2 separate regions of the Homo sapiens genome follow, and region 2 is linked to region 1. The links come from fine-mapping of genetic effects on gene expression. Tissue or cell type: sun-exposed skin. Region 1 holds a variant in brackets; the other region holds the start of a gene. All regions are shown on one strand. Distances are from middle to middle.

Region 1 (2,755 bases):
AGGTCTCAGGCTAGGTGCTTGCACACACTTACAGCTCATCGTCATACTCCTTTGGGGGGCAGACGGCAACCACAAGGTCGATCCAGTCCTGTGGGGAGAAGCCGTGTGACTCTGGGGCACACTCAGTTGGATGGTGCATCTGCCCCGGCACTCCATCCCCATTTCTGGGCCCCATGGCCTAGGATCAGCCAGGCTGCACCTTCTTCCCACGGGCCCACCTGGGGCCCACTGTGACTTCCATGGTCTGAGGACGTTTCTAGTCTCTGAGGCTTCGGGACCATAGAGGACAGGGCTGCAAGGCCCTTGAATGACACTCAGCTCCCAAATGTCAATCTATGGACCGGGGACAGGCAGCAACCTCAGAATCACTTGGGGGAACTTCTTAAAAGTGTAGGCTCGTAGACTTGGCCCCCAGAAGTCAAGGGTGAGTCCTGGGAAATAGTACTTTTAACAACCTCTCTGGGTAATTCCGACGCACTTTCTGATGCACAATCAAGTGGGGGACTTCTGGCCCAGCTTTTTGATCCTAACACCTGAATCCCTTTTACTGCCATCCTTGACTTGCCCCTCATTCTCCCTCCTTGGCTTAGGTGTATCCCCTGAAAAGTATTGGAAATATCACTGGGCCCCTCTACCATGAGCTGGTTCCTAATATTGAGCTGAAATCTCTCTCTCTTTCCCCAGGACTTCCCTCCATCCAATCCAGGTCTTCCCTCAAGAATCAGAGAGAACACTTCTGCTCCCTCTGCCCTAATGCAGACCTTCAGATAATCAAAGATAGTCATCATGTTACCCGTGAGTCTTCTCTTCTCCACATCCCTTCATGTGGGTCCCAGGCCCATCTGGTCAGCTTCCTCGGCACTGAACTTAATACCTCAGGCTCGGCTGCCTGCATACAGTTGCACAGGTTGTGCATTGCACACCATGAGCAGGCACCATTCACACTACAGTCTGTAAAAGGGCACCCCCTCAGATTATGTAGTGCACAGCCTGGGCAATCTTATGCAGTGGCCGTGATCCAGGTGGGTGTCTAATGAGTGCAGAGCAGATTCCCACCAGCCCCTCCTTCATCCTGGGTTCTCTGCTTTTGTTAATGCTTTCTGGTAGCCCCCAGAATTCTCTTGATTCTTGTTCAGTGTGCACTTAGAAAAGACCTTAAGTCTTTTTCTTGGGTGACCTGCCATGCCCTGGCTTCAAGAGTCTGTTTAAGCCACTGGCTTTTTGGATCCAAGGTCAGGAATTGACATCTATTTTTCTGAATCCCATCTTGTCAGATTTAAACCACAGGCTGGATGGGGTATGGTGTCACCAAAGTGTTGCCTGGACTCCAGATGCCCACCCTGGAATGAGGCATCCTATTGTGAGACCTGGCTGCAGAGGCCAGGGTTTGAGGCAGGCAGGTGAGGGAGGAAAGGAGGGAGGGGCCTTATTCTTACCCCGCCCTGATTCCAGGCCTTCTGCAGGGCAGC[C/G]TCAGCCTCAGCCAGGGTGTAGTCTGTCACAATCTTGCCGTTGATTGCCATGATCTCGTCCCCTTTCACAATGCCACCTGCAGGCAGATGAGGCTGATTGGCCAACTGGGCTGTATGTGACACGTGCCTGGCCCAGGGCTTGGCAAAGGGGGGTCATTGCCAGACAGCAGAAGAGACCTGAGCCTGGGTTCTGAAAGCTCATGTGGACTCAGAAAGCATGAGGGGAAACTAGCCACCTGGTTAGTGGCTAGTCAAAGGGCATTTAGTCCCTGTCCCTTCCACACCCCCTCACCCCAGCTCAGGAGAACCTGGATATCATTGATGATGAGCCTCTGTTATTACAGAGGGACACAGACCTGCATTTCCAGCACAGTATGAGGCCTGAGTCAATTCTGCCAGCCGGCCCTCCCTGTTGCCAGTCATGCTGGTCTGTTCAGGTCCCTGAGCTGCCATGCTCTCTCCTGCCTCAGAGGCTTCATGTCGCTGTTCCCTACCTTGCTTTCTCTTCTTCTAGGTCTGAGAGGAAATGTCAGAAGGGGCTTCTCTGACCCCCGCTCAGTCGAATGTAGATCTTGCCTATTCTCTCACAGCATCCCAATCTTTTCTTATTTGGCATTTTCCACAATTCGTAATCATTAATCTGTTTGTTTACTGATGGTCTCTCCCACCACACTGTCAGCTCCACGTGGGCAGGGATTGTCTTTTTGGTTCACCATAATATCCCCAGCACTTAACATAATGCCTGACACAAAATAGGACCTCAGTAGATATTTGTTGAATAAATGAAGCTGTAATAAGGTGCTCCTGAAAGAGTTGCCTGGGATCTAATAATTTTGGGGAAAGCTGAGTTATAAGCTGAACAGAGCTACTCACTGCAGGATTTGTCAGTCTTGAATGTGCTAACATGCACTGCAGCTTTCCAAGAGGTAGACAGATTGTGCGTGGTTTTCCACACCTCTTTGACATCAGAGCCCTTTTTGGAGGAATTTCTCCCAGTCCTGATGTCCACAGAACACTCTCCAGGTTACATTGAAATAGATCACCCAGGAGCCTTGTGGCATGAAGGCCCATAGGAATGTGGTGTATGATACTGACAATGGTGGCCATGGTGGCTTAAAACACACGTGCTCCTAGGGAAGCTTCATCAGTGACTAGTTATGTTCAAAGCAGTGCAGGACCAAACCACAGAAAGCAGTTGCCTCTGTGCAGTGCAACTGGGGATGGGTGACTTTCACCTTTTCATTTTGTACAAATCCATGACAGAGTCTCAGGGGCAATAAGGCAGT
Region 2 (2,628 bases), 110 kb before region 1:
TGCGGAGGTCACCCACACGTAGCATGAAGCAGAGGCGGCCGTGGCGCAGGGCGATCACCGCATGCTTGCTGAAGATGAGGGTCTCAGCCCTGCGGTGGGCTTGGGCAGTCTTCATGAAGATGCAGCCAAGCATGATGGCGTTGATCATGAGCCCCACGATGTTCTGCACGATGAGGATCAGGATGGCCAGTGGGCACTCCTCAGTCACCATGCGCCCCCCAAAGCCAATAGTCACTTGGACCTCAATGGAGAAAAGGAAGGCAGACGAGAAGGAGTGGATGCTGGTGACACAGGGCTCAGCAGTGCCCTCGCTGGGGGCCAGGTCACCGTGGGCGAAGGCGATGAGCCACCAGGCCATGGCGAAGAGCAGCCAGCTGCACAGGAAGGACATGGTGAAGATGAGCAATGTGTGTGGCCACTTGAGGTCCACCAGCGTGGTGAACACGTCCTGCAGGAAGCGGCCCTGCTCCCGGATGTTCTTGTGGGCCACGTTGCAGTTGCCTTTCTTGGACACAAAGCGGGCCCTCCGCTGGCGGGCACGGTACCTGGGCTTGGCAGGGTCCTCTGCCAGGCGTGTCAGCACGTATTCCTCGGGGATGATGCCCTTGCGGGACAGCATGGCTCCGGTGACCCCCAGGGAGGGGCTTCCCCCATCGGAGGCACCCCTCGGACGTGGCCTAGGGCCTCACTGCAGAGTCCTCTCGGTGGGCACCTTCTCACCCTGGGGCTGCACTCAGCCTGTGCTGGCCTCACTTCTGAGATAACTCCCCACCAGACTCTTCCTTACCTCCACCTGGGTCCCACTTCACTTCTTAATACCAGCCTCAGGCCGGGCGCGGTGGCTCACGCCTGTAATCCCAGTACGTTGGGAGGCTGAGGAGGGCAGATCACTAGGTCAGGAGTTCGAGACCAGCCTGACCAACATGGTGAAACCCCATCTCTACTAAAAATACAAAAGTTAGCCGGGCATGGTGGTGCGCACCTGTAATCCCAGCTACTCAGGAAGCTGAGGCAGGAGAATCGCTTGAACCCGAGAGGCGGAGGTTGCAGTGAGCCAAGATCACGCCACTGCACTCCAGCCTGGGCGACAGAGCGAGACTCCGTCTCAAAAACAAAAAACAAAACAAAAAAAACAGCCTCACCCTTGAGCCCACCTGCCTGGCGCCTAGGGAGCCCCCAACCCTGCCGGCTCTCCACCTGGCCCTGCGTCCTCCCCCAGCTTCCCCCACCAGCTGACCACCCCTGGGCCTCCCGCTAAGAGCCCTTCTCCCCGCCCAGCCTGCCTTCCCAGCCCAGCTCAGAACTTAACACCTCCGGATCTCTCCCACTAACCGGACCTCACCCCCACCTCCGGGTCTCCCGCCTCACCTGTCTGGCCTTCGGGCTCCCAGGCTCCAGCTCAGGTCCTGGCCACCCCCGCCCCGTCTCTCCTCCAGGTGCGCCCCCTATGTCCTACTCCACCCCTCCCGGAGCGCCCCCGCCGCTTTCCGGATCCCCCTCCAGCTCTCGTCCTCTCTGTCTCCTTGGGATCCTGCGTTCTCTGGAGTCACCACCCCACCCGGCTCAACCGCGGCTCCCCGGACCTGCGCGCGACCCGGCGGGGCTGACTCCGAGTCGCGGCCTCCCGGTCCCTGCCGCCCGCCCGCGCCGCGGCTCCCGCTCCGCGCCGGGTCCCGGCCCCGCCCGCCGCCGCCGCTGCACCTGCTCCTGCTCCTCACGCCACGGCCGTCGCCTCCCCGCCCCCTCCCGCCGCCCGGGCGCTCGCGGCTGGCCGTCCTCCCGTCTGTCTGTCCGTCCGTGGGTCCGCGGAGACCGACCTGGGCTAGGCAGGGGTCTAGGACGGCGGGAGGGGGGCGCACGAGGAGAGGAACGGGGCCGGGGACCGCCAGGGGGAGCCCGACCTGCACCGGAGCGCAGGGGGCGGGGCCGGAGCAAGCCCCCGCCCCTCCCGCGCCCCTCCCCGCCCCCGCCCTCCACCTCCCCTCCCGGGACTCACAACCCGGCCTTTGGAGTTTTTCTGATCCGCGGAACCCAGAGGTTCCTCCTGCCCACGCTCTACGAAAGTGGGGGGCTGGGAGGGATCTGTGACCCGCCCTCCCAGTCTGGGGCCGCCGCCCTGTCGCCCTGGCTCCCCTCCCCCAATATCCCCATCCGTATTTGGGTCAGTAATCCGCCTCTCGGCCGCGCCAGGTTTGCAGGTTCCCCGGGAAAGGAGGCGCTGAGAGGCGGCGCCACCAATCCCAGGGCTGGCGGAAATTAGGCGGTCCGAGGACTTCTCAACCTGCAGCTGCTTCTCTTTGGGGGATGCTCTTAATCTTAGTCTTGAATCCTTTGACAATCTGATGGAAGCTCAGACTCCCTCTCATTAAAAAAAAAAAAAAAAAAAAAAAAAAAAAAGGCCTCGGCAGGAAAGGAGCACAGTTTAACACCTGCTACTGCTGTGGGGCAGCCTGGGCGGCTCCATCTTCTCAGCCATTCCGGCCCTACTTTAAAGAAGGTTTGAGCCGAGGCCACTTGCTTTACACTTTCTCACACCTGTCACCTGACTTCTTCCACGTTAGGTCATGGGTGGTATTTAGGCCTGAACAGTGTGTTAGGGCTGCCTCGGGCACTGGGGGACCCAGGCTC

Evidence for each region. PIP is the estimated chance that this variant, and not a neighbour inherited with it, causes the effect.
Region 2: KCNJ11 starts here. The variant in region 1 is fine-mapped to the expression of KCNJ11 in sun-exposed skin (GTEx, PIP 0.99).

What each region holds. Positions count from the first base shown.
Region 1 is chr11:17,496,726-17,499,480 of GRCh38, forward strand. USH1C (USH1 protein network component harmonin) reads right to left here. Exons shown (of 27, transcript NM_153676.4): 24 at 1,437-1,546; 25 at 33-88. Among named protein-coding and RNA genes, the nearest start is that of ABCC8, 21 kb to the left of the region's middle. The variant C/G (reference allele first, on the strand shown) is at 1,470.
Region 2 is chr11:17,387,473-17,390,100 of GRCh38, forward strand. It overlaps KCNJ11 (potassium inwardly rectifying channel subfamily J member 11), which reads right to left and starts at 1,187. Exons shown (of 1, transcript NM_000525.4): 1 at 1-1,187. The coding sequence starts at 619. RefSeq lists an enhancer at 1-369 and silencers at 1,578-2,087, 2,168-2,267.